3 linked regions of the Homo sapiens genome follow. The protein of the gene in region 2 purifies or fractionates together with the protein of the main gene of each other region. This does not show direct contact. Each region holds a gene or a part of one and is shown on either strand. Other genes may lie near its edges.

Region 1 (10,867 bases), on a different chromosome or scaffold from region 2:
GGGACCCTCGCGATCACCTACTCAAATATTTGCTTTTACAGATGAGAACCTCAGAGTACAGCAACTGGAATGAGAACTGAGGTCTCCTTTTTCTAATAAAAATGCCATTTTATTTTCAAAAGCACTTATAAAGGGCTTTAGAGTACAAGTGGTGGAGATGAAAGTTGAGATAGAAAATTATTGTGCATAAGGTTTGAGAGACTGAATGCTGCAATTGCTTTCGGAACTGTGTGGCTGTAGACATTTATGTGCACGAGTTATTTATTTCTTTATTTATAGTGTAGGGGGTGGTGGCGGTAGGGGAGAATGGAAGGGTGGAACAGTATGTGTATTCTGCCTAGATATGAGAGTCAGGACTTAAATCTGTTAGGAGAATGAATTAGCTATTGAAGTTGAAAAGGACTTTCCCATGAAATTTATTGTGAGATTCAGGGCAAAGGTACTGCCATTTAGGGTGTAGATGTCTACGTGTAATATTAAGAATTGTACTTTGGGCATTTATATTATTGTGATCTCAACTTTGCACACAAGCTGGTATGATCCAAGACAGTTGGATTATGTATAAGTAGTAATAAAACTATAGATGCACGCTCACTTAAAGAAACTGATGCAGTTTATACTTTGGGGTCATTTTCTAAACAATGTATAACCTTAGTACATTTAATCTCTGTACTGTTGTTAGATTAATATTGCTTAAACAGAACTTTGTAACTCTATTTTCAGAATCTTTTGTGCCCTCCTCTATGCAGATGGAATAAGCTCTTTTGGCTTCTGTCTACTGCTTTATCCCAAAATACTGCCCAAGTAGATGCAATAAAACAAAATGCTTCGTGGGGAATCAGATATGCTGAGAGTCTAATCCTGCCTTCACCATTTACTAACTTTGCAACCTTGAGCAAATTCCATAGACAAGCCTCATGCTAACTGAAGCAATGCAGGTCAGCTCATGACTCCGTTACAACGTTTGGCCCAGAAATGTTAGGAATGATAATTAGAATGTTGAGATGTATGGTGTGATGAAAATGATGATAATGAAAAGCAGGAAGAGGAGAGCCTTATAAGTTCTGTGCTTTCTTGCTTTCATTGCTTTTGCACATGGCTTTTCAGTGGAGGGAAATGCTCTTTATTTCTATTATAAAAACTTCACAAAGTTTTAAAGACACAACTTATATTCTACCTTCTAGGGTCTAGCAAAGGGTCTTGAAATAATGCTTCTTTGTCATGACAGTAATGATTAATAAGTATACCTGATATTAGAGGAGCGTCTTTTCCAGGAAGAAAACATAAGTCAGATATAATATACCATTGCCCATGCCATTAAGATAATACTTGATATTTGTACTTGTGCTAATTGAAAAGTGTGAAATGGTATGGTGTGTGTATATACGTACATCAAAATATGTCTTTAAAATTCTTTAGGTGGCTGTTTAGATTCATCTTATGTCCATATTATATTCTAGAACCTTTTGTTGCTGGGGGAACCAGTTTCCCCCTCAAGCTATGTTTTCCCATGCACAATTAGAGACAAAAATAATTAGAGGAAGCTCTGTTCAGAGAGAAGGGGAAATGTATTAAAAATTAGTCAATTTCTGTTCTATGGTAGGAAGAACTAAATCACTATTCTAAACCTATCAAAGAAAATAAAAACTTTGAAGTCTCACTTCATGCGTCATTTAAATACTTGGCAATTACTCAGCTCACATAAACGTGGCCCCTTTCTGGTGTGTAGAAAAAGTGATTCTTTTCAATGACATGTACATATGATTTGATCCGAAAGCAATTCACTTTTCTTTAGACATCGATGTGTATATATGAAACTTACGGTGCCAAGGTCAATGATGAAGCAGTCACCCTTGTTGAAACTGTCCCAGCTAAGGGGAACTTCTGTGGCTCTCACCACTCTACGACCCTTCACATGTAGGAGCCTCTTGGCTGTCAGGTCGTTCGTAAGAACATGATTTAATCCAGATGCCACGCCTCCAGCCTGATGAATGAGGGAAGACAGACACACAAAAAACAAAGAGAAAACTGATGAGGTGTCTGCCTAGACAAAGCAAAGCACAATAATACTGCTGGTGTTTGTGCCAAAACTGTACCTGTCAGGCCAAGTTAAAATAGCCACCTATTCCATAAAACAAGAGAGAACCCCTTGGTAATCAACAGATTGTGTTTGTTTGGTCTCTTTATTCTTTCTGTTTTAACCATTCAATTGACAACTGCAAGTATTTACTGAGAACCTTCAGTGTATAAAACGCTGCTGCAAAAACAAAAAGAAGATGCCATAGCTCTTGCCCTTTGGACACTAATGATCCCCAAATCAATAATGAGCAAGGCAAAGATTTCAGGGAAGAAGGTGACAGGTGGCTAGAGGAGGGTCAGAAGTAACACATACAGATGACAGCAGCCAGAGAAGAAGGCACCCAAAAGTTCACACTGGTACAGGGTTGGGACAGAGATGGTTGTTGAGTGCTGGCCAGGAATGGGTTGATCTTATGTATGGTCCTTGTTTTTACATTTAAAGTAATCAAATGTCTTCTTTATTTTCTGGTAAACAGGTCTTACTATTAATAAATATGCTAGGCCTGAGTGTTTTTACTGTAAGCTAGGAGAGATGCAATATCTTGGCTGTACATCCCCAAACAAAAAAAATAAAATAAAATGAAATACAATCACCCGAATTAAAGAAAGATATTAACTGTATCAACTACATCTTCTTATATTATTTGCAATGATCTTTTACCTTTTCATTTTTTCTAATTAAATGATATGAACCATATCTTTATTTCTACTATTAATTATAATTAATTATATGTGAATAACTGAGCTACAGTATAAACAAAACTGTCACTGATAGATCAAAGACCTCTATAATAATAATGGTACGGAAAATTAGAGCTAATTTGTCATTAGCACATTCTTTTCCATTGATTTTAAATTTCCACCGTTCTCCAATAAAAGTTGGTATAGATTAAATGTTAATTTCAGGACAATTAAAACTTCAAATTAAAAAAAAATATAAAATGATTTCCCAGTCCATAATTTTACAACGACTGCTACATTTCTTGGTTGAATAAACTAAGTATTATATAATTAAATAAATACAAGTTTTCATCTATGTACTCCTGTTTTGAGACAGAGTTTCACTCATGTCTCCCAGGCTGGAGAGCAATGGCATGACCTCGCCTCACTGCAACCTCTGCCTCCTGGGTTCAAGCAATTCTCCTGCCTCAGCTTCCCTAGTAGCTAGGGTTACAGGCGCATGTCACCACGCCCAGTTAAATTTTGTATTTTTAGTAGAGGGAGTTTCACCATATTGGTCAGGCTGGTCTCAAACTTCTGACCTCAGGTGATCCGTCTGCTTTGGCCTCTCAAAGTGTTGGGATTACAGGCATGAGCCACCATGCTCGACTACAGTTACTTTATTATTTAATTTATTCCTTAATACAACACCTGTATGAGGAAACTGTTATAATATTCATTGTTTGGGGAAACTGAGCACAGAAAGCTCAGTATTTTCCCTAAAGCAAACAAGTCATATGTGGCAGAAATGGGTTCATAACTATGATGGTGTCACAGCACCTGCTTTTAGTAACTACAAGACTCAATTTATTTAAAATGTTGAGTTCACTGACATAAAGGAAGTTTCAGTATCGTTTGTCATAAACTGTAGGAGCTCCTGTGAATCAAATAAAATGAGAGGTAATAGTTTTGTATTTAGGGTAGTTCATAGCCTAGAATAAAATAATCATTTCAAGAGACATAAGAGAACCTATAATGTATAAGTGTTTTGTTCTGATCTCAATAATATCACAAAATATTCAACGAAGACTCTGAACAGGTAAAGGTATAAATAAACCTCGCCATCTTAGTAGGCGGACTTAGTATTACAGTCAGAATTGTAGTGAAGCTCTAAGGTTTCAGGTCTTCACTAGGGTAGCATGCTCACAGGGCAGGGCAGTGGGGTGTGCAGAACACTTGCTGGAGCGTGTTTGATTTCGGAAATCTGTGATGTTTGTCTGGGGAGGGTATTCCTCACACTTTAACTGAACACGTGTGGAGGGGTGAGTGGCAGGAATGGTGAAGGGAGGGCCAGTCTGGAAAGCTAACTAGGAGGATGCCAAAAAAAAAAAAAAACCTGTCCTATACTGAAGGCTGCCTTAAAGGGATAGAACCATTTAACTATTTGTTCTTGTTTATTTTCAGAAGTAAAGCCAATTGATCAGTGTTTCAGACCAGTGTGCATAAATTGTGTATGTGCGTGTGTGTAGTTTACCTGCAGAATTTTAAGCTCAAAATTTTCATCTGCATCCCTTCTAAGATCAAACCACACTATTTTGGAAATACATGTATAGTTCTTTACAGTTACTAAAATTATAATTATTATAAATACTGTATTAATATATTCCAGAACAACTGAGATTTTGAAGGCTTAGGTTACTTGCAGAAACTTCAGAGATTTTCTAGAATAGCAAAAATGAAAACTTTTAAGACCCAAATTACCAAAATTTAAATGTTGAAATAGCTACAAAATATTACAAAGGTATCTTGTGAAGACACAACTGAAAGCTCTTTTAAAAAATTAACCTATCAAATTAAATTTTCACAATATTTCACATATTGTACCACACATTTCACAAACATTTATTGAACACCTACTTTGTATCCAGCAGGTACTGGGGATATATCCATGAACAAAACAGATTAAAACAAAAGCAAATAAAACAAAAACCCCTGCCCTCAACGAACTGTCATTCTATGAAGACAGGAGGTATGGATGGACAAGAGGAGAAAGGGATTCATAATGGAAACTGAGGGAGCTGCTTACCTTGTATTTCAGACCGCCTTTGAAATAGCTAACAAAGTCATTAGACTCATATCCTTGAAGTTCTCTATTCTGCACTGGCTTGCCACCCAAATAGTCATCCATCTGAACAGTGAAGATGGCAGCAGCTGTGCTTTCATCCTGGGAACACTCCTTTCCTAAAACAGTGAACAACAGCACCTCAATTATCAAGCAAGAGAAAGGATTAAGGCAGAATTTCTGATATGAAAGAAGTCAGAAATTTTCATTTCAATTATGTATCAATCCAACAGTCTTCTACACAAAGATCTTTTAGCTAAAATACTGTATGTAATACATTATTTTGCTAATAATTAACAATTTTTTTAGTCTATTTTTTTTTTTTTTGAGAGAGGGTGTTGCTCTGTTGCTAAGCCTGGAATGCAATGGCATAATCATAGCTCACTGTAACCCCAAACTCTGGGGCTTAAGCGATCCTCCTACCTCAGTCTCACAAGCAGCTTGGACTACAGGTGCGTGCCACCATGCTTTGCTAATTCTCAAAAAAGTGTTTTGTAGGGAAAAGGTCTCCATATGTTGCCCAGGCTGGTCTCAAACTCCTGGCCTCAAGCAGTCCTCTGGCTTTGGCCTCCTAAATTGTTGGGGATTACAGGTATGAGCCACCATGCCCGGCCTGTTTTTGTTTCTGCTTTTTCCAATTCCTTTAAAAATTTTAAAAAGAAACACTGTTGTGTGAAGTTGCTCAAGAAGATAAAACAATCTATTCCAATGAGATTTAAGTAAGCATTAATTTGGTAAGGTCAATAAGATCAGACTATGAAAACATTTGACAAGTGGTTTAGCCTTTATTAGGATAAATCTTTGATTTTATGATATGTCAATATGTTAACTGATGTTTGTGAGAAATATGAGCATCAGAGCCATAATTAAATAAGTGGTTTTTACAATGGGAAAATGAATATAATTTAATTTTACCCCTATTTTTTGGTCTTTTTCCCTACTTCACTATCTGACTGGTTCTGTTTGAATGAAATAATGATCTCTGGAGGAAAGGAAGAGCAAAGGAAGCAGCACGCTAACATTTATTAAGTGTTAATGTACTTGGTATTGTTCCAGGTATTTTACATACAACATACATTTAATTTTCACAATTGTAATACACATCACATCCAGGTAACTTCACTAAGGTCAAAACAATTCCTAAGAACCAGTGTCTGTAGTGTACATAAAGGATACAGTACGGACAGTCAGGAGGGGCACTCACATTTTATGGAAAACACTTCAAACTCTTTACTACATCCAAGCTGTAATAAAAATCTTAAATGACTCTAGAAATAATAATAGCCAACATTATACATTTATACTACCCCTATGGGCCAGACACTATGCCAATGTTTTACATGGATGATCTCATTTAATCTTCAAGCAACCTCATAAAGCAGAACCTATTTTCTACTAGATTGGAACAGAGAAAATGGAGGCTTAGAGAGGCTGGGTAACTTTTCTGAGGTCATAAAGCAACTTTTGGGAGAAAAAGACCAGATGTAGGTTTGTGTGACTCTGAAGCACAGGTTCTTAAAAACTCCAGTACACTTGTGGGTATTTTTTTGTACTCAGGCTCTCATTAGCGGTACAATTTTATAGTGACAAGGTATGTTAATTTCTTCCATAGATAACTGATGCATAAAAGCTTAGAAGCTGTAATAATTTAATAGTTCACATGAACAACCCTAACTGACAGTATTCACCAAAGTTGAAGAAGGCAAATCAGTCAGTTGTATTAAAGAAAGAATCAGATTTCCTTACAATTTCCCTCTTACTCTCAAATGAGACTCATATACCAAGTATCTTCTGAGGGGAAACAACAACAACAACAAAAAAAAACAACTCAGTAGCTAGAAGATTACTTGACGTGATAACAATTTTGTGAACTCGCTGTGGTCAAAGTTAAGTATTTGACACACCGGCAATTTTGCAATCTGAAAGGACTCTGGTGTCATTCTTCTGCCGATTTGGGATCCGAACCCTAACTGAGAATACCATAAAGATGTAGATGTAGATTTTTATGATGCCTTAAGAGAGATGCTTTAAGAGATAACTTGGAATCAAGGTTAACATCAAAGGTGTTAAAGATGATGTATTTGACATAAACGTCCTTACCTGACTACAGGTTGAAACCTGAATCTCTTTAGGTAGATGTAAATGGACAGGCATGAAGTTAATGAATGAACTGAAAGTAAGTTAATTAAATTATCCTATCATTTGCTGATGCTTATGTAATGTGGTTGGCCAGGGAATATCTGTATGAATAAAACAGGATGCCTGAATGAGGTTGACGGTCTTGATGAAGCCAATGTCAGCCTTTGGATGCGAAAATTAGAATCAAATCCAGTTGTAGCATGATGGAATTCCAGAAAGTATTTAGAAACTTATGAACTTTGTGTATAAAGTCTGCTTAAGAATCAGTTTAGTTTTCCCCTACGAATCTGCTTATGATTTCCATTTGTTGTTTCCCTACACTGATTTTACCGGTGTCTTTTATGTTCTGTTATACTATGCTGTGCCGTGTTATTTTATATTATGTTAGACTTGTGTACATCCTATGAATTTCTATAAGTATTTTGTGGATGTAATGATTTTATAGATAAAAAGAGAGATTTAAAACTAGGTTAATCCAACAGCCATTCATGATAAAATAAAATAAGTCAAATTAGGAATAGAGAGGAACACCTTCCAACGATAATTAGAGTCAACAAAAAACACAGAGCTAGCAATGCTGAACAGTAAAAGACTAAATGTTTTTCCCATAAAATCCAGAAAATGGGTGTGCACTCACACCACTCTTATTCAACATAGTACAGCAAGTTCTAACCACTGCAATAAAGTAAGAAAAAGAAAAAAAAGGCATACAAATTGAATATGAAGAAATAAAAAGGTCTCTATTTAGAGACAACAATATTGTTTACATAGTGAACTCTAAGAGACCTATCCAAAAAAAAAAAAGAAAACTCTCCTAGAAATAAAAAGTACATTGAGCAAATTAGCAGGATACAAGATTCATCAGTAATACAAAAAATCAGTCACATTTCTATATAGAAACAATGAACATGCTGAAACTGAAATTAAAGGCGCAATGCTATTGACAATCACTCCAAAGAAACTGAAATACTCAGGCATATAGTTTAAAAACATGTACAGGATCTGTATGCTGAAAATTACAAAATGGCATTCAAAATATCAAGGAAGACCTAAGTAAATGTAAACGCTTAGTGTTCATGGATTTTAAGACTCCACATAATAATGATGTCAATCCTTCACAAATTGATCTATAGGCCTAATGTTATTCTTACCAAAATCACAGTAAGGTTTATTATAGACATATACAGGCTTATTGCAAAATTTATATAGTGAGGCGCAGGCCCTGGAATAGCTAAAATAATCTTGACAAACAAGCATAAAGTGGGGGGAATCACTCTACCTGATACTAAGGTTTACTACATAGCTAACGTGATTAAAACAGATTGGTACTATTGAAGGATAGACACAGATCAATAGACCCAATTTCCCCCAGTAGTGGCAACTTTGTAAAATTACAGTATAGCTTAACATATTAATGTATAGTACAGTATAGCACTGAACACCACAACCAGGATATTGGCATTGATATAATCCACCTATTTTATTCGTATTTTCTCAGTTTTACTTGTACTCGTGTGTGTGTGCATTTAGTTCTATAAAATTTTATCACATGTGTAAATTCATACATCTGCTATCACAATCAAGATGCTGTATAGTTCCACCAAAAACATCCTTCAAGTTGCCCTTTTATAATACACTCTTCTCCTGCCCACATCATCCCCTCTTCACCCTATCTGTAACCAACGGCAATGCCAAATCTAAAATTTTGTCATTTCAAAAATTTTATATAAATGGGATCATACAGTATAAAGCCTCTTAGGGTTTTTCACTCAGCATGATTCCCTGGAGCTTCATCCAAGTTGTTGTATGTATCAATAGTTTGTTCCTTTTTATTGCTGAGTAGTATTAGTTGGTACAGATGTACAACTTGTTTAACCAGTCACCTGTTGAAAAGCATCTGGGCTGATTCTAGTGTTTGTTTATTCAAATAAAACTGCTGTGGACATTCAGGTACAGGTTTTCATGTGAATACAAAACTTCATTTTTCTGGAATAAATACCTATGAATGCAATTGCTGACTCATATGGTAGTAGTATATTTGGTTTTGTAAGAAACTACTAAACTCTTTTCCAGAGTGCTGTACCATTGCATGTACCCACCCCCATGCTCCAGCAATGTAAATGATCCAGTTTCTAGCCAGTCCTTCGTATAAGTTCTTTGTATCGTATATTGTAATCCAATCCTTTGGATTCCCAGGGCATTGCACAAGGCCTGGTATAGCCCACTTATAACATAAATGTATACTGCTTTAAAATATATTTGTGTGAAGTTTAAAACTGGCAAAGAGAAAGAGTGAGGATAAGTGTTTGTACCTTAGGTTAGGGATGTGACAGGGAGCAGTTTTACTATCTAGACCTACCCATTGATTTGGTGCTATAAGGAACTACAAACAGAGGTGAATGGATGCATTTAAACTGCTAGGTGCAAAGCTGAAATGTTTTTAAAGAAGGGCTAATGCAATAACATTTAAGTTCTTTGCAATAAATTTTTACTTTCATTACATTTAAGCATATGATGTTAATACATTCAAGCATGTAATGTTAATACAATAAAATAATCTGAGATATGCCAAGTGTTATGGAAACACTGAGGGAGAGACCAAGAAAGACGACTCTCCTGCTCTGTTCTCTCTTGTTCTAGGTCCAACTTCTTCCTGTTTCCCCTTTTTGCCTCCCATTTGGCCTGTTTCTTCATTTCTATGCTATGCACCTTTTTTCATCTCAGTTTAACTTTAGTTTCTCTTTCTTCCGGCTGATTTCCTTTAACCAAATGTTCTTTTCCCCTGGAAGTTCAGCTCTCTCTCCTGTGACTTTCTCTCAATCTGTCTCTCTGATGAATCCTCATGGATTCATCCTAATTTAGGTCTTAGACTACACTATTTTGGATGAAATTCTGTTTTCTTAGGGAACTGAAGTAGGAAGAGCTGTTGGGCAATCCCATCTGAAAGTCCTGTTGACTATTTTACTTGAAGCTTTTTTTCTCTCCATAATTCTCTCTTGACACAAGAACACTTCCAAGTACTCTCATTTTTTTTTTCTCTAAAGGCTTCTGTTTCCCAATAACCACAGAAACTTTGTGCTTTCACAGTAATTATCACATTCTACCTGTGTTATATCACTTTTTGTCTTTTTGCACCTTTGAGGTGATGAACTTTTAGAGAAGTTTCATTAATTATTCATATCCACAAGTGCCTTGTACAGTACTGGCCATATTGAATAATTACTGAATGAATTTGCTTGTTATTAACATGTTATTGACTTCAGTTTTAGCATGTCTTTAAGATTATAAATGTTTCTGCCCAAACCATTTTCTATTATATTTTTGAAATTTATGGGCATCAAGTGGATAATTAAGTAGATAATTAAGTGAATAAGGTGAATCTGTAAACCCTACAAAATATAGTAGTTAAGAGGACAACTTGGATAAAAATGTATAGAATTAAAGAATTGTGTTCAAATCTCCCTTGCGGTCATCTGACAAAGTCAAACTTAACTGCTGTCTACAGTAAGATATGGCATTATTTCACATTTTAATTTACTCAAATGGCAAATGTGGCATTTCAAACACTTTCATTCATGCTAGATTTAAGTTCTGCATGGAAAGTCCTCTGTAAGGACATCATTATTCTATCTGGCATCATTCATTCTTGAACATGGGTTATAAAAGTTTCAGTCTTTTCTGGCAGAAAATACAAATAGATGACTGTGTATTACAACATTATAATAGGAATAACAGCAATGCATCAAGAAGCCAAAATGTGTTCAGAACTCAGGCTGAGCCTTCTCTGCCTCCTCAAGCTAACACAAATTTTTGACTCCAAATGTTATAATTAAAAGTCTTATCTTCATCTACGTATTTTTCATTTCT
Region 2 (11,265 bases):
TTGGCACCGGGTTTCCTGCTTTTTGTCCTTTGATTCATGTGCCCTCCTTTCTTCTGCTTGCTTATGTGGTCTTTGACTCACTCATCTTGTCTCTTTCTTTGGCATTTTATACCAGCTAGGTTTTGATCCAGGTTTTGTAATGACTTATGGATGCTGTATGCACCCTGACTTGTGAGTGCTTACCTAGATGATGTGCAAAACATTTAGCAACTGGTATAGAAGGGACACTGCCCAGTCAGAATGGTTGTTTATCAACAATGAGGACAGTTGTCCCCATGCACACCGCTTGAATAGCAGCCCAGCTCACTGGACTCCACACTCCTCTAACCACTCTGATGAGGGACCTCCTGGTCCTTTCTTAGGGCTTGTGCCCCAGCTTGTCTCCTTTCTCCTCATGTCCAGGCTTGGCATGGCTGGCCTTGTGCCCTATTTTGTGAGCTCCTGCCACTCACAGTCCTGGAGTTGACTTTCTCATCCCCACCCTACCTAGCTCTCACCAGGGGAACCTAGGAATAGTGATGACACATGTGAAAGAGGTAATTAGTGGGGCAGCCTTGATGCCAAAACAGGATGGCAAATCATAAAAGCAGAAATAGCAAGAAATCACAGCTTTAAGGAAGGTTGTGCTGAAACATGGGACCAAGGCCAAGGAACTCAAAATGGCTTTGGGAGGAAAGGTGGCTATTTCAGTCCATGGAAGAGCCATAGCAGAAGAGCGCATCTCATTTTACACAACCACGAAGCCTTAAAGTTACGTAGAATTGACTTTTTGGTGTGCTGAAAATAAAAATGGTTCATAGTATACAACAAAGGACTAAGCAGGAGAATTTATAGGAAGAAAGTTAGGAAATTTAGGATGAAAAAGTAGACTGGGGTCAAACTGTTATGATCCATTAAAACCAGAAACTGAAATTTGAATTCTAATCTGTAAGTAATGTGAAGCACAAATACTTACAACTTACACATTTAATCATATGTCCTGACCTTTCACTCAAAAATGCATTAAAGGCAGTTTCTCAAAGGTGGTTCCATGTAACGATAGCCCCTCAAGATATTTTTCATTTTTTATTTTTGCACACAGTTTGGGAAACATTACATATCACATCCTATGGACATTCCCACCCCATTTACATCCCCATATACAATGATCATTAACCCATGAAAGGCTCTGAAAAGTCAAGAATAAACCAACTTGTCCAGCTTTGTTTAGTGTTTTCCACATCTGGCTAGGCAATTTCTTTTTCTTGTAACCCATTAACATTCTATGTATTTTGGGGAATACTGACTGAGAGATTCACAAGTACACACAGACATTCATGCAAGTAAATATGTATACTTTAAATTAGTATTTTCATGTATACATAAACACATATAATCCAGGTAAAGCAAAAATATCTTTGCAGCAAGGGATTCCGTGTAAGAGATTAAGTGTTGTAAGAGTTGATTCTGTTTTCGTGGTCTGGTAACAGGAAGTCTCTTCTGCACATGCCTTCTATGAACCTCTTTGAACCACTTAAAGTCTATAAGGAAAACATTTGGTTGTATATGATTTACACACAAGGGAATGAGAGGAAACCCCAAAACTTCTATCCTATCACAAAGCTAAATCATTTTTCCCCCAACACTACCCTAACCCAAAATAAAATGAACCACTGCCTATGTTCTCAAACTTCCTTACACACTGACACAGATCTCGGACACAGAGAGGAAAGGGACAGCACTTTCGGGATGGTTCTTGGGTAGGGCTAGAATTTCTTAGGTATGGAGAATTACTAATACTTTGAAGTTGAAGCTAGAGGATGGGGTACTTAAGCATAAATGATTGAGAGTAGCCAAGATAAACCAAAAATGGGAACACCAACCCCCCGTCCCCCCCACTCACACCTCCAATAGGTGATTTCAATTTTGGGAAGGTGAAGCCAAGAAATTCCCCACAGATTCACTGCAGCTGTTTGTCACGAACCACCCCCGTCTTCTACAACACTTTCTCTTTATTCGCTTATTTATTTTATTGACTTCCCCATTTCTTAAAGTTCAAATCTATAGAAAAGTTAAAAGAATAGTACAATAAACATTTGTTTTCTTCTTGATTCACCAACCGTCATCATTCTGCCACATTTGCTACGTTCCTGAACTTGTTCTGCTACCCCTATCCTTTTTTTTTTTTTTCTGACACAGCTGAAAGTTGCAGATGTCATGACACTTCACCTCCAATATCCACATCTCCAAAGAATAAGGATTGTCTGGTCTAGGTAACCACAAGAATGAACTATTATTGCACCTAAGAAAATTAACACCAATTCCATAATATCATCTAACATGCAATCCATATTCAAACATCCCCAACTATCTCCAAATTGTCTTTTATAGCTTTTTTTTTTGCATCTAGGATTCAAAGTTCACACATCCCAATTCACTATTGTATCACTTGAGTATTTTAACCTACAATAGTTGCTCCCATTTGCTCTGCCCCATCGCCAAGTCTTTTTGCAGGAACACTACAGAGGTGAAATTATGCCTCCTTATTGCTTCACAACGGGAGACTCGCAGTAGATGCTGCTAAACTTGGTCATTTGGTTCCAGTGGTGACCTCCTAATTTCTCCATTGTAAGGACAAATTTTCCCAGAGTAAACTGTGGTGAGATACTTTGAAATAATATGAAAATCCTATTCCCCAACCACCTTTCACTCAAAGGTTTTGGACCAGTTGGTAAGTCCTTGCCTTATTCAACTGTTATGTTAGGTTTGCAGAGCGCCGAGTTCCTGATTCTCTCATTCCTTCTATTGCATATTTCTTTTTCAAACAATGATCCATCAGTACGCAACTTCTCTTTTCTGTGTATACACATTCTGGTTACTTCTTGCTGGGGCTTCCTCCCCGACCTCCATGCTGACCACATTTGACCACTCGTGCCCAGCCCTAGGGAGCCACTAATCCTTTATCTGCTGATCCCATCACTTCACCTTCAGCAAATTAAAGACAAAAACAAACCCCATCATTTTGTTGCCCACCAATGTACAGTACCTTACAAAAATTAAAATGATTGCAATGCGTATTTATTGGGTTAGACTGAAGAGAGTCGATCGAGAAAATCAGTTTTATCTTTAAAAAAAAATCAGATTGCTGAAGCTCTGAAAAATCTTTCCTCCTCACTAGGGTAGAGGCGCTTGTTGTCACAATTAGGCTTTTTGTAGTGCTGTTAAACAGAAACACTCTCATCTTTTCAGTTCCCTGAGAGGGGAGAATCTTGGAAGAACAGAGGTTTACAAATCATTTAGCCCAAACGCCCCTTTACATGCAGAGGCCCAGAGAGGTGGAGGGACTTGCCCAGGTCCCTCAGCTCCTGAATGGTCAAGCTAAGAGGAGAACCTGGTTTTTAAAACACCTCCCCCGATCTTCTTTTCATTCCCGTCCTAAATGCCTCGTGATTCAGATATGTAATGGGCACAGACGAAGCTGCAGTAAGCACGGCCTCCTTCACTGCTAATTTGCATTGTGACGGCATCACCTTCCTACCTCTGAATACTCTAAAAATTCCCATTAGAAGCCTTTTATTACTGTTTTAAAAATCCACCTTCATTTCCGCAGGTCAACAGGGAACATTTAGGAAGCCTCAAGGGAGCACATACTACAATTACTTTAACCAGAAAAGTAATAACAATAATAATAAGGTTCTCGAGGATCCGCACGAGGCCGCTTACTGGGAGGCTGAAACGCCCTGCGAGTGACAGCTCCAGCGATCTCAGGAAAGACGCCGGCCAGTCCACCCCTCCCCATCGCCTGCTGAACGAGGCAGGGAGATGCATACCGCTCCAGGAGCTCACCAAACATGCACAGGAAGGGGAAAAGTGGGGGAACAAAGCCCGGAGTGGAAGAACACAGCCCCGCAGCCCGGGAGGACAGGAGACCGCGCCCTCCCCGCTGCGGCCCAGCGGGCTGCAGAGGCTGCGGCACCGCAGTGCGGGGCGCGGGACTCACACCCCGGCGGGCGCCTCCCGCCCGGGCGCAGCGCCTGGTCTCCCGGCGCAGCCGACCGGGCCGGGAGGCGAGAGGCGAGAGGCGGCCCGGCTCTGCACGCCCGCCCGGCCGACCGCCCATGTCGCGGAGCATCCTCCCGCGGGCAGGGAGGGCACGGCGGCCACCGCGCTGCGGGCCCGGGGGCTGCAGACACCGGCTGTCCAGAACAGGCCCCACCCGCCCCCCGGGGCGCTCACCCGTCCGTGCGCTCATCCCGGAGCCGGCTGTGCTGGCCGTCAGTCCGTCAGCCCCGGTGGAGCGGGGCCGGGAGAACAGGGGCGGCGCCGTGGCCGGGGCGAGCGCGGCGATCAACAGGCGGCTCCCGGCCGGGCGCGGCGCCGGGGCGCGCGGCTGCAGCGGAGCAGGCTGGGAAGCGTAGTTCCCGGCTGAGCCTCGCCGCGGCCCCGCAGTCCCCCAGCCCCGCCCTTCCCCGACAGGTGTCCTCTCCCGGAATCGGGGTCTGAACCCCGCCACAGCTCTGCAGGGGAGGAAGCACCTGGGTCGGGGAGAAGCCTGGGCAGGCTCTTTGGAGACGCTCGGGGCTCCGGAGAGCGTGGATGGCAAAGGCTTTCAAGCCTGTGATGAGCATTCCTGTGAGCGAGCATCCTGACACGGAAGCCGCGTTGAGAGCGGTCTCAGGTACAGACCCCGCCCGCCCCAGGTTTTCCTGGCTGGGCGTGGGCGTGGGAGGAGAGAGTAGTTGGGTTGGCAGCCTAGGGAGGGAAGGAGGTAAGCGAGGTGGAAGTTAGCAAGGCTCTAGGGTGATGGCGTGAGGGGCTGGAGAGCCCAAGCGCAGTGGCGGCTTCACTGAGGTGAGACCGGACAACTTAGCCTGTCTGAGCCTTCGCGTCCTCATCTGTAAAACAGGCTTCAAGCTTGAAAAAGTGTTGTGAGGATTAAGCGACCCATAGCACTTAGGATCTGGCACTTAGTGCATACTCAGTGAAAGTTCCTTCCTTGGGGTTTCCGAGGGAGTTCTTGGGCCGGGAAAGTCCTATATGTCGTGCTAACCTAAAGATAGTTGGACCTCGTTGGGCTGGGTAAATGTTAAAATCCACTGGGTTTGTTAGTCGTTGAGCCCGTTCACTTCATCCCTGAATATACCCTGAGATGTTCTGTCTGCCAGGTTCTTGAGAGCTCCAAAGATAGAGAAAATAAAGTCAAGTTTCTGAAGCATGACAGCAGAGTGGGGTGACATAGGACAAAGACCAACATTATGAAAATACATGGCATCTAGATTTAACTTCCAGAGGCCTTTTCTAATTAGATGTGATATCTCTCTCCTTCTTGAACTTTTGCAGCATATTTTGAGCATAACCTTTGCTTATGGGACTTATCTTGGCAGTCTAAGGTTCGTTGAGTTTTGCAAGTTGCTGCTATGCAGTGTTTCACATGATGGTGGGATTTGCATTCACAGATGTAGTGGAGGAAAATGAACCAAAGGGATGGATGCAGCATGGCTGGTGTAATCTCTATATGAAATTTTAGGCAAAATGTGAAAAGAGGTGAAACAGCTTTATAGTCTGTCTGGCACGAGGTGTGCAGTAATCGTGTGGCCAAAAAAACGTGCTGCAGAGGAAATTCCACATCTGAAAATGATAACACTGGTTTGCATTTATGAAAATACTTTCCTATTTGTGTTCTCATTTGATTTTTACAAGAACCCTTGTGAGACAGGCAGAGTGAAGGTATTTTTCCCCAATGATAGTTAATAAGAGGCACAGAGAGGTGATGTGACTTATTCAAGGTCATAGGGGTGTTCAGTAAGCCTGTCTTCTCTCCTTCCACTGTGGGCACCCCCAGCACTGTCTCCCTTTTGCACATTGCAAAATAGGGCCATACCTTCCCCAGCAGATGGGTTGAACCAGAAAGTAAAGTTAATCCTCTAAAACTCTGGGAACTAGCATGATGAACACTGGCACGCAGTGGCTGCTGACTGAGAGACCAGTGTTGTTTCTATGATCAATTGTGGTAATGGACTATATCTTGGGCCTCCTGTCAGAATGACAAATCTGAGCCAGAAAGAGTTAAATGAAATGGGGGTGTGACCAAATTACTTTAAGTCATGTTCCCAAGTTTTCCTGTACATTTGTTATTCCGAATGTCCTGTGTAACCGACAGGATGCCTTTGACTTTTTTATGTTGTACATTTGTTACAGTCATAGCCTTCTGTTAAATAAGAACAGGGCTGCTTACGGATCGAGCCAGCAGTTTTCCCAGAGAAAGCTGATAGTAGGCATATGCTGAAAATAATAAAGCAATTTCATTCATATTGGAAGAAAGAGTAGCAAAGGTGCTCAGTAGTGTACAGTATTTCTCTTTGGTTTCCCGTGGTTCTGCACGAGGAAAATGGCTGCATGTGATAAAACGAATAGAGTATTCCTTCAGAAACTAGCCATGAAAGGAAGCAGACAGGGGAATGATTTAAGTTAAAGTCATGTTCGGCAGTCGAAGCAGAGATACAAGAGCTATCCTACAGCCCCAGAGCCATGCTCCAGGAGGATGCTGACACCAAAATAAAGTGAGTTGTGAAAAGAAACTTCTGATCAGTCTCTGTCTGTATGATGAGTGTTGGAAGCTGGAAGGTGTTAAAGGATGAGTGAGGGAAGTAGAACATTTAACCTAATGTTAAAACTTAATGGAAAGATATTACCAGTTCCAGTCTGTTTAGCTCTTTAAATCTATTGCCTATGTCTTATCTTAAGGAAGAAAGGATGTCAATATGCCTATGACTTATCAGTTGAAACCCATGATCATTTCTGGACCATATCTTGTAAGTTTAACTTTTCTACTTGCTTTTTAGAAGATGAAAATGTAAAATTGAAACAGAACTCCTGGAGCTGGAAGGGACCTTACATATCATTTTGTGTAGCCATTTCTTCCTGTAAATGAGGAAGCTGATATATTGACTGTAATTGTCAAATGGCAGAAAGGAAAAAAGTTCAACGTGGCAGTTATAATGAAGTATTTTAATTATTCACAGTGGAATATGTAGCACACCTCATTAGGAACAGGTAGTAGACACTGTTGGTTGTCTATTAAACATTCAGTCCACCCTCTTCTTCTTTATAGAAGCCTATATGGGTGTTTACACATTAGGAAAGGTGACCCTATTAGCCTCTGAGAGGTACACTCTCAAATCTATCATAGACAAGAGGAATAGAATCCTCTTAACTGGCCTGTAAGAGTTTAGGAGTGGACATGTGACCCAGTTCTGGCCATTGTAAAGAGATACGATGAATCTGGGTCGGCCATATTGTTGTTGAGTCAGTCATCAACCAGCCCCAGTGCTGCCCTTCTTCTGGATTTCTTGTTATATGAGATAATAAATAACCTTATTGTTGAGTCAATTTGAGATGGAGTTTTCTGTTACTTGAAGCTGAAAGCATCCTAAGTGTTAAAGATGAAATGTGAAAGTACATTCTTTGGATGGACTGAAAGACTGCTTCCTAGAGTTGATTAAAAACAACCACCACAAACCACAGGCAATGTGATGGGATATTATCATATAACAGATAACAACATGGGTTTTAACATCAGAGAGTTTGAACCCAGATATTTACTGGCACAATGACTATGGCCAAGTTTCTGTAACCTCCCTTAAGCCTCATTTTCTTCATCTTTTTTTTTTTTTTTTTTTTTTTTTTTGAGACGGAGTCTTGTTCTGTCACCAGGCTGGAGTGCAGTGGTGCGATCTTGGCTCACTGCAACCTCTGGGTTCAAGCGATTCCCCTGCCTCAGCCTCCTGAGTAGCTGGGACTACAGGTGCTGCCACTACACCCGCCTAATTCTTTGTATTTTAGTAGAGACGGGGTTTCACCATGTTGACCAGGATGGTGTCGATCTCCTGACCTTGTGATCCACCTGCCTCGGCCTCCCAAAGTGCTGGGATCACAGGCGTGAGCCACCGGGCCCGGCCTTCTTCATCTCTTAAACTGAGGATAATAATACTTACCACATGGGGTTATTAGAAAGACTAACTGAGATAATTTGTGTCAAAGATGCTTCAAAGGATATGGTGGATGATAAAGACTAAAGGAGCAGTGACTATGTTGATGAATTATGAATTAAATCGTATGTGTAGTATAATTGACAGCAAACATCTAAAAGCTAATTACTATGTAATCATGATCATGTTAAATGATACCACAGTGATGCAATCAGCAAAATCCAAAATATAGGAAGCTCTACATGACAAACAACTGATTCTTCAATAAATAAATTGCAAGAAAAATAAAAGGAGAGAAAGCTTATAGATACACAGAAATTCAAGAGACAAATAACAAAATGTAATGTGTGATCTTAATTTGAGAAAGCAGCTGTTAAAAATTCACATTAATGAGACAATTAGGGAAAATGTGAACACAGAATATTTGATTATATTAAGGTCTGTTTTCTAAAATTATTATTATTATTTTGAGACAGAGATTTGCTCTTGTTGCCCAGGCTGGAGTGCAATGGCGTGATCTCGGCTCACCACAGCCTCCACCCCCTGGGTTCAAGCGATTCTCCTGCCTTAGCCTCCCAGGTAGCTGGGATTACAGGCATGCGCCACCACGCCTGGCTAATTTTGTATTTTTAGTAGAGATGGGGTTTCTCCATGTTGGTCAGGCTAGTCTCAAACTCCTGACCTCAAGTGATCCGCCTGCCTCAGCCTCCCAAAGTGCTGGCATTACAGTTTTTGTTGTTGTTGTTGTTGTTGTTGGTTTTGAGACAGAGTCTTACTCTGTTACCCAGGCTGGAGTGCAATGGCGTGATCTCGGCTCACTGCAACCTCTGCCTCCCGGGTTCAAGCAATTCTCATGTCTAAGCCTCCCAAGTAGCTGGGACTACAGGCGTGTGCCACCAAGCCCGGCTAATTTTCGTATTTTTTTTTTTTTTTTTTTTTTTTTAGTAGAGACAGGGTTTCACCATGTTGGCTAGGCTGGTCACGAACACCTGACCTCAAGTGATCTGCCTGCCTTGGCTTCTCGAAGTGTTGGGATTACGGGCATGAGCCACCATGCCTGGACTAAGGTGTTATTTTAAAAAATTTTTTGATGTGACAACAGTATCATGATTATTTTTTTGAAGAGTCCTTACTTTTTGGAGCGATAAACTGATTATTTACAGAAGAAATAATATCAGGAATTTACTTTAAAAATTATCGAGTGTGGGAGACGGGGTAGAGTGGTGGGGTGGGGTATAGATGAAATGATTGGCCATGAGTTGATAATGGTTGAAGCTGAGTGTTGGAGCTTTATTAAACCATTCTCTCTCTTTCTCTCTCTCTAAATACAGTTTTGTTAAGACATATTTCACATATCATAAATTCACCTTTTTAAAATGCACAGTTCAATGGTTTTTAGTATATTCACAGAGTTGTGTAACTATCTCCCAATCTATTATAACTTTAGAACGTTTTCAAAACTTCAGAAGAAACCACAGACATGTTAGCACTCATTCCTCATTCCCCCTACACACCCAGACTCTGGCAATCACAAATTTATTTTTTGTCTTCTCTAGATTTGCTTATTCTGGATATTTCACGTAAATGGAATCATACAACATGTTGTCTTTTATGACTGGCTTCTTTCCCTAATTATAATATTTTTAGGGTTCATCCATGTTGTAATACACATTAGTACTTTATTCTTTTTTATGGCCAAATAGAATTCATTGCATGGATAGACCACATTTTGTTTATCTGTTCATCAGTGGATGGACATTTAGACTGCTTCCACAGTTTTGCTGTTATGAATAATGTTGCTATGCACACTCATATACAAATTTTTGTACAGATATATTTTTATTTCTCTTGGGTATATATCTAGGAGTGCAATTACTGTGTCATATGGTAACTTTATATGAAGCATATTGAGGGACCACCAAACTGTTTTCCAAAGTATCTGCACCATTTTACATTCTAACCAGCAATGGGTGAAAATTCCAATTTCTCCACATCCTTGCTAACACTCGTTAATGTCTTTTTAAAATTATAGCCATCCTAGTTAATATGCAGTGGTATCTCATTGTGATTTTAATGATTTCCCTAATGACTAATGATGTTGAACATTTTTTCATGTGCTTACTTGCCATTTTATATCTTCTTTGGAGAAATGTCTATTCAAATCCTTTGCCTACTTTATTTTTCAGTTGGACTATTTGTTTTATTGCTATTGATTTATAAAAGTTCTTTATATGTTCTAGACACAAGTGCCTTATTAGATATGCGATTTGCAAATGTTTTCTCCCATTGTGTGTGTGTGTGTGTGGTGTGTGTTTTTAACTTTCTGGATGGTGTTCACTGGTAAACATCCCTTGCTAGTTTGAGGGAGTTCCTGTTTATTCCCACTTTGTTGAATGTTCTTATAACAAAAGGGTGCTGGATTTCATCAAAGACTTTTTCTGTGTCTGTTGAGAGGGTCCTGTGGGTTGTTTTTCCCTTTATTCTGTTAATATATTGTAATACATTGATTTTCAGGTGTTAAATTTACCATTAATTCCTGGGATAAATCCCAGTTGGTCATGGTATATAATCTTTCTACATGTTGCAAGGTTTAGCTTGCTAGTATTTTGTTGAGAATTTTTGTGTCTACATTCATAAGAAATATTAGTCTGTAGTTTTTTTTTCTTGTTATGTCTTTGGTTTTGGTACTAAGGTAATACTGGCACTATAAAATGAGTTAGAAAGTGTTCTATTTTTTTGGAAGTGTTTGCAAAAGATTAATATTAGTTTTTCTTTAAATGTTTGGTATAAATCACCAATGAAGCTATCTAGGTCTTGGCTTTTCTTTGTTGGAGGTTTAAAAATGACAAATTCAGTGTTTGCTTGTCCTATGTCTATTCAGATTGTGTATTTCTTCTTGAGTCAGTTTTGTTAGTTCATGTCTTTCTAGGAATTCATTCACTTTATTTAAGTTATCTAATTTGTTGTCACACAGTTGTTCATAACATTCTTTATTATTCTTTTTATTTCTCTAAGATCAGTAGTAATATCCCCTTTTTTATTTCTGATTTTAGAATTTGAATCTTCTCTTTTTTTTCTTGGTCAGACTAGGTAAAGGTTTGTCAATTTTGTCGATCTTTTCAAAGAATACACTTTTGGATTTGTTGACTTCCTTGATTGTTTTTCTAGTCTCTGTTTCATTTATCATAACTCAGATGGTTTAGCTGGTGAATTCTACCAAACATTTAAGGAAGAATGATACTAATTCTCCACAACCTCTTTCAGAAAACAGAAGCAGAGGAAACACTTCTTAACTAAT
Region 3 (10,867 bases), on a different chromosome or scaffold from region 2:
GGGGTATACAGAATACCAAATAATAATGTATTAAAAATTCAGTATTTCAGTATTAAGACTTCTTCATCCAAAGACAGGTCTAACTCTAACTAGGCTCAGGCTACCTCTTGATACTTACTAAAAATAAATAGGGGCAGACTTCTCAAAAACCTTGGTTCCCGGCCTTTCATCAGACTCTTCTAGAGAAACCTCCTTTTCCCTCACCATTGGCTATCATGTTGCATAGTCACATTAAAAGAACTATCTCTTATAACAGCTCAAGAGTTTTAAAACCATAAAGAAACACAGCCTAAGTCAATTGCTGGTACACTATTCAGGCTGGTATAAATTTGAAATGATTCAATAATCCCTACCATGTTCTCCCTTTCTCAGTCCATAAGCCCTTCCTCTATGTATAAATGGTTCTCGGCCAGCTTTTTCCAATCTTTGTTCTGAGGAACACTAGCTGGGTGAGATGTTAACAGGTAAAAAACATCTGTGTTAAGTATGTTGGGAATATGCAGGGCGAGATAAATTTATGTACCACTGAACTGCTCAGTCTTTGATGTACTGACTGTACTTGCTAAAGAAGAATGAAGTGTTCAGCATTTCCCAAACTCATCTGACCACAGAATCCCCTTTTTCCCCCAAAAAAATATCTAGAGGAGCTAATAGCTCTTAGAATATTCTTTGGAAAATGCTATTCTAGCCTGATTCTAAACATTCCAGAGCTAAATCTGGCAATAGTTATGTTTTTAATTTCTGAAGAAGAATCATTTTTCTTATAAGGTCAACTACCATGATAACCTCCTGGTTTCCACTCCATAAGTAGGCTTCCCAAAGCAACTAACAACTAAATTTTCTTCACTACATACTAAGGAATTCAAAGAACTTATTCTTGCGTGAATGAGAATTATGTTCTTTTTAAGGAGATACTTATATTCTTCCCCTAAGCATTAAAAATACAAAGATCTAATTCTAGATCCTAGGACCTAGAATCACAATTATTTTAAGGAAATGAGAGTATTTTATTACAACATCATTGCAATTAATATTATCAATGAATGATAATTAGTAGTGGTGCTAACAGTAGTAGTGTTGGTTAAGCATTTATTTTTGCATCCTAATCCTAATATCCACTCTATGAATTTAGGACCTACTATTACTCCCATTTTAAAGATAAGTACACCGAGGTTTACCAAGATTAACTGACTTGCCAAGGGTCACACACTGGAGTAAGGGCAGAACCTTAGACTCATGTCTGACCCCTCGCCCCATGCTCTTAACCACATAATGCCATCTTTTATTTCAGTGACAAGACAAAAGCATTTAGGTCACACTCTTGTTGTTAAACAGGAAAATTATATAAATGCAAATTGTTTAGAATAGGTTTTGGATTTCCTTTTGAGCAAACCCCCAGTCCTTTAAAGGATATACTTAAAATTTTTTTTAAGCAGAGGAAAATAGACTACTATTTACCAATGACAAGTTTATAGAGTTTTAAAACGAGAGGTTTTTTAAAAATCTGCATCCAAGGTGAAGACGTTATCTGTGGTTTCTGCCATAACTGCAAAACGCTGATACTCTGAAACTCGTTTCTCAAAGAAATTTGTTTTTCCTTCTAAAGAAATGTTTTCCATAAAATCAAAAGGATTTTCTGCCTGAAAAACCTAAAAAGGAAAGAAATATTATTAGACATTCTGAAGAGATCAAATTACATCCACAATAAGAGCAAAGATGACCAAAACAGAGGTCAGGTTTCTCAAAACCTATCTAGTCAGCTACAAGATCATATCATTCCCCTAAGACCCTGGAGGTACTCAAGGCTGACAAATTTTAAGATGACCCAAGATCAACCACTAATCTCCTCAAGAAACTGTACTAGCATCTCTGGTATTCTAATAAATAGAAAAAAAAACACAACTATTTCAGGAATTGAAATATTTAATACTAACCAATAGAAAATGTTCTCACAGCTTGAGATATCCAATACACCATGAGCATTTTTCATAGATATTACTATTAGTCAGACATACATGATACTATAAAATGTTAAATTAGCAACAATCCACTGTGGTTCTAAGTATGTTTCTTAGTTTATAAGAGAACAGATAATCAACAAATTGTCATTAAGGGAACATGATCAGGGAAGACAGAATAAATGTTATCCATAGTGACTAGATGTCTCCAAACAAAAAGGGGGACTATGCTAACAAGAAGCTTTTTTACTGCTTCAGAATTCAAGAAACAAGGCCGAGCATGGTGGCTCATGCCTGTAATCTCAGCACTTTGGGAGGCCGAGGTAGGTGGGATCACCTGAAGTCAGGAGTTTGAGACCAGCCTGACTGACATGGTGAAACCCTGTCTCTACTAAAAGTACAAAAATTAGCTGGGCGTGGTAGCAGATGCCTGTAATCCAAGCTACTCAAGAGGCTGAGGCAGGAGAATTGCTTGAACCTGAGAGGCAGAGGTTGCAGTGAGCCAAGATCATGCCATTGCACTGTAGCCTGGGCAACAGAGTAAGACTCCATTTCAAAAAAAAAAGAATTCAAGAAGCAGACTTGGAGATACAGCTTGATGGAAACTGTGGGATATTTCAGTGATTCACAAGGAGTAACAAAAGAGGATTTCTCAATTTAGGAGTATCCCAGCAAAAAATATGAACACTACAGATAAACATATATTCAAGTAACCCAATTTTAAATATGGGCAGAGTGTCTAAATAGACAAACTGATACTTCTTTAAAGAAGATATACAAAATGAAAAGATGCTCAGCATCCTTATCCATTAGAGACATGCAAATCAAGATCACAATGAGATACCACTTCCCACCTACTCGGATGGCTATAATTTTTTAAAAAACAGGTAATAAGTGTTGGTGCGGATGTGGAGAAATTAGAACCCTCATACAGGGTGGGAATATAAAATTGTGCAGCTGCTTTAGAAAACAGTCTGGTAGTTCTTCTAATGATTAAACATGGAGTTACCATATGATCCAGCAATTTCACTCCTAGGTGTATACTTAAGAGATATGAAAACATGTCCACACAAAAATGTGTAAATGAACGTTCATAGTAGCATTATTCACAATAGATCAAAAGAGGAAACAACTTAAATGTCCATCGAATGGATAAATAAAATTTGGTATATCCATACAGTGGAATATTATTTATTTGGTCATATAAAGGAATAAAGCACTGATACATGCTACAACATGAATGCACCATGAAAACACACTAAGGAAAGAAGAGAACCACAAAAGGCCACATATTATATGATTCCATTTGTATGAAATAGAATATGCAGAATAGGCAAATCTACAGACGCAGAATAGGCAAATCTACAGACACAAAAATTAGATTAGTGGTTGCCTAAGGCAAGGTGGGTAAGGGGAGGAAAGAGGAGTGACTGACTGCTAATAGGGATACAGTTTCTTTATGGGGTGATAAAAATGTTCTAAAATAGGTTGTTATGATGGTTGTACAACTCTGTGACTACACTAAAAACTATTGAATTGTACATTTTAAATGGGTGAATTGCATGCTATGTGACTTAATCTTTAAATAAAGCTTTAAATATTTATGTATCTTTTTTCCAAAAACTCATATGCTGGGTGTGGCTGAGTGAAATTCTATGAAATTCTCCATCAGAAATTGTGTGTAAAAAGTGAGGGAATATTGGAGCTGTAATATACAGCAAGATACAGTGAAAGGGCACTGAACCAATAGCCATAGACTCACTAGATGTTAGAACTGAAGACTTTTCAAAAAATTAGATCTAAGTCATTCATGGCATGGACAAAGTAACCAAGACCAAAAAAACAAACTAAATTAAGTGGCTTGTTTTTGGTGGGTTTTTTTTTTGACACAGAGTTTCGGTCTTTTTGCCCAGGCTGGAGTGCAATGGCACAATCTCGGCTCACTGCAACCTCTGCCTCCTGGGTTCAAGCGATTCTCTCGCCTCAGCCTCCCGAGTAGCTAGGATTACAGGCACCCACCACCATGCCCAGCTAATTGTTGTATTTTTAGTAGAGACAGGGTTTCACCATGTTGGCCAGGCTGGTCTTGAACTCCTGACCTCAGGTGATCCACCTGCCTCAGCTTCCCAAAATTTTGGGATTACAGGCATGAGCCACTGTGCCCAGCCTTATTATTATTTTTATTTGTAGAGATAGGGTCTTGCTATATTGCTGAAACTAGTGTGGAACTCCTGGGGTCGAGCAATCCTCCTGCCTTGGCCTCCGAAGTGCTGGGATTATAGGAGTCAGCCACAAGGCCCAGCTCCTACAAGTTTTGATACATAGTAATCATATTGTCATTTACTTTATATTTTCAATTAATTTTTATTTTCATTTTAAATCTCATTTTAAAGGAGATACATGTATATGCAGAGAGAGAGAGAGAGAGAGCGAGAGAGAAAGGGTCTCACTCTGTTGCTCAGGCTGGAGTGCCGTGGCACAATCTCAGCTCACTGCAACCTCTGCCTCCCAGGCTCAAGTGATCCTCCCAGCTCAGCTTCCCAAGTAACTGGGACTACAGGCATGCCACCAGGCCTGGCTAATTTTTTGTAGGATTTCGCCATGTTGCCTAGGCTGGTCTCAAACTCCTAGACTCAAGTGATTCTTCCACCTCAGCCTCCCAGAGTTCTGGGATTAGAGGTGTGAGCCACCGCACCTGGCCTAACGGATATATTTTTAATCTCTAAGTAGATTAAGCTTTTTGGCAATTTTTAAATCAGTTTCTACTTTCATTGCATTAAAAATCTAAGGCCTCTATAATTTCTGCTTTTTAGAATTTACTCAGATATTTTGAAGCCTGTGGAAAAACAAAGTTTTACATTGTGTTTAGACCTTCTCCTGCAGGAGGTGGCATGTTTTACATACCTACAGTTAGCAAGTTCCCAAAAGGAAAATTAGACCCAAGGGTCAGCAGTTTTCTAATAAGCAGCAGAACATGAACGTGTGGATGTGAGGATATGGTAATGGGTTAAAGAATAGCGAATTCACTGTAAGGCTTAAATAAGCAAATTCATTTTCTAATAACAAAAATATTGGTAAAAGTTATGAACAAACACAATTTCTTTTAATATACATAGTTTATAAGTTTAAGAGATTATATTAATATAGTTATAATCTTGATTTCTCATTAATTAGTAAACACAGAGAGGATCTTGCAACTAAAATGTTAAAATGTAGTTTATCTTACCAAAAAAACCTACGCCCCACTTGACTTTTTCATTAAGTACCTGGGTGGTTATCAGAATATAATTCTGCTATATCTGCTAATACAACATTAGCAAGATAGGTAATGATTACCACAGCATCATAGATTTCATAAGGATTCTCATTAAAGATAATTTGAACTTACATTTTCATGACAAGAAATCAAAATCTGTATTTCTAATTACCATGGTATAGTACATAGTGAATTTCTGTGTTTCACTTAAGTACAAAGTGACCATCTAGTGTGAGTTTATTATGTGTCTAATATTATTTTAAGTGCTTTAAGTGTATCAACTCATCAACAATCCTTTGTAGTAAATATTATTACTATCTCTAATTTATAGATGAGGAAACTGAGATAGTTAAGCAACCTGCCAAAGGTCACACAGCTAGAAAGTGGTGGAACCAGGATTCAAACCCAGATAGTGTGGCTGCAGGCTCCATGTCTTAAGTAATGGGAAAACCGCACTGATGAAATTCAGGTACATTATCTCTGATAAATGACAAAAATAACTTGAATAACTCTGTTCAAAGAGTTATATTGTGACAGTTAATGTCTTCCTAATAACTATTCCCTATTTAAAAGTATTAACTCCCAAACCACAATATAGACACATGGCGATTTATATGAGGGTGAATATATATATGCATATTAAACCTAACTCCTTGAAAATAATCCTATTAAATATACAGCTACAATTATTGCAAAATAATTTATTGAGCTTATTAGTTCTAATATTTTACCAGCCTCCTACTTCAGTTATTAATTTTAAATTTCAAAGGATTTTGCAAAACCTTGTTCATACAAAACAAGTCTCTGTCATTGACATTTAAAAAATAGAATAGTATGTTACAAATGCTTTCAGTAAATTATACTTTAGGGTCCTTGCTTTCCTATAATATTTTAACTAGTAGTAACACATTTTTAAACACATTACCTTTGAGAATCCAAGTTCCACAAGTAATCTGTCAGCTACAAACTCAATGTACTGTTTCATCAAAATGCAATTCATTCCAATGAGGCCAACTGGCAAGGCTTCTGTTAAAAACTCCTGGGATGAAAACAAAAACAGAATAAAGTACAAACAAAACTATAAATATGTATTTTCCAAATAGAAAGAGGACTTTCGTTTTATTTCTAAGACTGATTTTGTCCAAGGAAAGTATATTAGGATAAATTCTTTCAATGTGGCAAATGATGTCCGTATATTTAAAAACATTTGGGGTATTAACTATTCACATTTTTTCATGTTTTCGAAGAGCCAAAATAAATGGAAACGAACTACCAAATTACTGGATTTCTTGAAGTAGCAGATATAAGACTCGGATTCGTATGCTTTCTCAATAGAAAAAAAAGATACTTTGTTCTAAAATATCTGGAAAAAGATTCAAAGATGATCATCATGAAGAACATGACTATGGAAGGGAGCTGGGAAAGAAAGAAAAACTCAATTAACAAAGAAAATGAGAAAAAAGAAACAAACAGATTTGGGGGTTGGGAGATAAAATAGCTCCAACCATACTGAAAGACTATATAGTGGTAAAGCGTTAATAGAGGAAAAATAAAAATATATTAACCACTTGGATTTAGTTCTCAAAATGATTAAAGATACCAAAGTACCTGTTATGCCTTTTTCCTCTTTCAATATACAAACTACGCCTGTTAAACTACGCAGTGTTACCAAAACAAAAGCAATTTCAGAATGATAAAAACACATCCTAAGTAGCGCATCTAGCTCTTTCTAGTAAGAAATCCGTACATACCCTAACTTAATTGTTACTTTTCATTAACTTACTTATTCATTCTATAAAAATTTGTGTATGCTTCAAGCTAGGTACCTTGCTACGTTATTAAAAATACAAAACAAATAAAAAATCATCACTGTTCTCCAGTCACTAAAAATGTAAAAAAAAAAGCTACTATAATTAGCTGATCATGGCATAAAATTTGACAGAGATCAATAAGACAGAAAAATAGCCCTGAAACAGGTTTTAGTATACATAAAACCTTAATATATAATAAAGACTGACTTACTAAAGCAAATTGTAAACTGACATAATAATTGTAATATATCATGTATTGGTATTGTCAGGCTGACCAGAATAAAATTGCTGGTATTTTTATTGACCTACAGAATTTCTTATGAGTCAATATAATAGTGGTACAAACATCAGAGAAAGAGAGATGTGCTAATTACACAAACTTCCCGGTTTACCTGCTCAATTTTGACAGCATCAACAATGATCTCCCTGACCCTTTCTTCTGAAGGCTTATTTACTAAGTATTGGAACATCAGGCAAGCAAAGTCACAGTGAAGTCCCTAAAAGGGAAGAAAAATGTCATTGTCAAATAACTTTTAATCAGCTATTTGCATATGGTGATGGGTCAAGCATTGTATAAAGTGGTTCTAGGAATATAACACAGAACTTCTGGAAAATGGAAGAGGGGTTAATAGGACTAGGAACTTCCTTCTTTCAAATCTCATTAAATGCCAATACAATAACCTATAATAAAAATTTTCAATGCCAGCAAATCTTAGTTCATCAACATTATAGAAAAATTAATTTATGAACAAACAAAATCTGCAAATAAAAGCATTTTGGAAAGGAAAATAAAGCAAGAAAGCCTGAAATGAAAATTCATTAATTTTTAAATTTCAAAAATAATTAAGGAATGATTGAAAAATAATTAGTATTTAAATAACAGATGAAACTCAGATTTCAAAAATACATTTATAATTAAATAAGAAAGGCTCAAGATAAAAATGAATTCAGTTCTAATGAAAATGGAAACTGAGGTGGGGCTCGGTGGCTCATGCCTGTAATCTCAGCACTTTGGGAGGTCAAGGTGGGCAGACTGCTTGAGTCCAGGAGTTCAAGACCAGCCTGGGCAACATGGCAAAACCCAATCTCTACAAAAAAAAATAAAAAATAAATAAATAAATAAATAAATAGAAGTAAATAAAAAATACCAATAAATAAATAAGAAAATGGAAACTGAACAATGATGAATATCGCCTGAAGCCATACAAAGCAGATATGATCTTACAGATAACTCAACCAAAAATGAAAATAAACTTGTGAAATACCCGAGTATGGTTATACAAATGCAATAGAATCTTAAGTAATTGGAGAATAGGTGAAGGAGAGTCAACCTACAATAATCAGGACTCCAAAACACAGAATAGATAGTATAGAGCTAAATATTAAAAAAAAAAAAAAAAAAAAAAAGAAAATTTCAAAAATTCAACATGAAAAAAGAGAGAGGTCGGATATAGAAAGATGGAATTCCCAGGCTGGGCATGGTGGCTCATGTCTGTAATACAGCACTTTGGGAGGCTAAGGTGGGCAGATTCCTTGAGTTCAGGAATTCGAGACCAGCCTGGGCAACCTGGCAAAACCCCATCTCTGCAAAAAATACAAAAATTAGTCAGGCATGGTGCACACCTGTAGTCCCAGCTACTCAGGAGGCTGAAGCAGGAAGATTGCTTGAACCTGGGAGGTCAAGGCTGCAGTGAGCTGAGATCACGCCACTGCACTCCAGCCTGGGTGACAGTGAGACTGTTTCAAAAAAAAAAAAGGAAGAAAGAAGAAATTACCATCAAGGCTGAAAGATGTTAAAGTGTTGATGAAAACTGACAGGTAACTTATTACAGAAAGCAATACCAATCAAAATCCCAATGGAATTGGTGTGTGTGTGTTTGTAATTTATTTTAAAAGGCTTTAGAGCAGAAAAGAAAGAAAAGTACACTTCAAAGAGTCCCAAGCGGGCACAGAGGTCAAGTACCTAAATGGGATTGTTTTTAATTCAAAAGTTAATCTGGAAGGCTGGGCACGGGGGCTCATGCCTGTAATCCCAGCACTTTGGGAGGCCAAGTTGGGAAATCACTTGAACCCAGGAGTTCCAGACCAGCCTGGGCAACACAGTGAGACCCTGCGTCTACAAAACTTTTTTAATTAACTGGATGTGGTGGTACATGCATGTAGTTCCAGCTACTTAAGGAGGCTGAGGTGGGAGGACTGCTTGAGCCCAGGAGGTCAAAGCTACAGTGAGCCAGGATCATACCACTTGCACTCAGCCTGGGTGACAGAGAAAGACCCTGTCTCAAAAAAAAAAAAAAAAAAAAAAGAATAGAATAAACGGACAGAATCTTGTAAGAACACTTTCAAAAGAAAAGTTTCGATATTTATCCTACAAATTATTAAAATATATGAAACTATAATAATTAAAATGGTTTGTTATAGAATAAAATCTGATAGGTCAATAAGGAAGTAAAAATAGCCATGAAACCGATTTTAGTCTAATAAAACCTTAATAGATAATAAAGAAGACAGCGCAAGTCAATGAAGAAAGGATGATGGATTACTTAACAAGGCAAATTGGAAAAACTTCCCAAGAGTGTTTAAAATAAAATTAAATTCTAACTTATTCTTTATTATATTTATGCTAAATCCTACTTTACAAATTCCAATTGCATTACAGACTTAAAGGTTAAAAAACCAAGAAAAAAAATGTGTAATTAATTTATCTCTGGAAGTGGATTACATAAAATTTAAGGTTTTGTATGTTAAAAGAACAAAAATTAAAAAGCAAAGGATAAATTGGGAAAATATGTGAAATAAATATAAGCAAATTTGTATTTTATATTATATTTGTGCTATAAATATAACAAATGCTATAAAGGTGTACTTGTTGAAAGGACCCAATCAGTCACTGTACATTGGGAATAAACCAATGAACAAGCAAGCATGACCCCTTCCTTTAAGTATAATAGACTACTGAAGAAATAACCTTAAAATAGTGAGAGCACTCAGAGTTAAATAACAAAAATGTTAATATTGCACCAGTAATAAAGGCAAAAGATAAAAGTAGGCAACTACAGAAAAAATACAAATCACTAATATCATTATGAAAAAAGTGTTCAATCTAAGTAATAATTAAACAATGCAAATAAAACCAATAATGAGATACCAATTAACCCTATCAAATTTGCCAAACATTTAGCAAATTAATCTAAATTCTGGTGAGAGTATGGTAGAAAATGTTCATACATTGCTAGATGGGGCTGAAAATTGTTATAAAATTACTGGAAAAAAAATCTGCAAGTAAGTATGTATGAATGCTTTATAACTTAGTAATTCTACTTTTTGTGATCAAGCTTAGGAAAATAATATAAAGGGAGGACAAAGCTTATATATATGTAAAGGTATTCATTTTATACTATAGTAAAACAAAAAACCTGGAAATAATCTAAATTTCTAATTATAAAAGTCAAATAAATGATTCATTCATTAGATTATACATTTAACAAAACTACTATTTTCAAAAGGTGCTTAATGCCACAGAAAAATGATTGCAGTATTTTGCCAAGTGGAAAAAGAACATCTCAACTCCTAAATATATGAATGATTAAAATATGTTTATATATCTAAATAGAATTAAATGTAGAAAAAAAGTCTATAAAGAAATACTTCAACAAAACAGTAAATGTAGTTCTCTCTGTGTTGAGATTAATTTTTTATTCTCTCAATTCTCTATAACAATCCTATATGACATTTCTAATAAAAGTTATTAAAAATTTAAAGCCATGAAAAAGCAAAAAGTAATTATATGAAGCATTTTATGGCATTTAAAAAAATACTTTCACATACACTATTTCATTGCA

What was found.
Region 1: the proteins of TMOD2 (region 2) and SCIN purify together in Homo sapiens (affinity purification with mass spectrometry; 3 studies listed by BioGRID and IntAct, with this or other methods). This does not show direct contact.
Region 3: the proteins of TMOD2 (region 2) and RRM2B purify together in Homo sapiens (affinity purification with mass spectrometry; 3 studies listed by BioGRID and IntAct, with this or other methods). This does not show direct contact.

Annotation. Positions count from the first base shown.
Region 1 is NC_000007.14:12,572,177-12,583,043, reverse strand, and holds part of SCIN (scinderin), read right to left. Parts: intron 4,981-10,867; coding exon 4,826-4,980; intron 1,985-4,825; coding exon 1,823-1,984; intron 1-1,822. UniProt on the Homo sapiens protein: Ca(2+)-dependent actin filament-severing protein that has a regulatory function in exocytosis by affecting the organization of the microfilament network underneath the plasma membrane.
Region 2 is NC_000015.10:51,744,663-51,755,927, reverse strand, and holds the start of TMOD2 (tropomodulin-2), read right to left. Parts: upstream 4,332-11,265; 5' UTR 4,216-4,331; intron 1-4,215. UniProt on the Homo sapiens protein: Blocks the elongation and depolymerization of the actin filaments at the pointed end. The Tmod/TM complex contributes to the formation of the short actin protofilament, which in turn defines the geometry of the membrane skeleton.
Region 3 is NC_000008.11:102,206,637-102,217,503, forward strand, and holds part of RRM2B (ribonucleoside-diphosphate reductase subunit M2 B), read right to left. Parts: intron 7,523-10,867; coding exon 7,418-7,522; intron 6,254-7,417; coding exon 6,140-6,253; intron 1,650-6,139; coding exon 1,497-1,649; 3' UTR 1-1,496.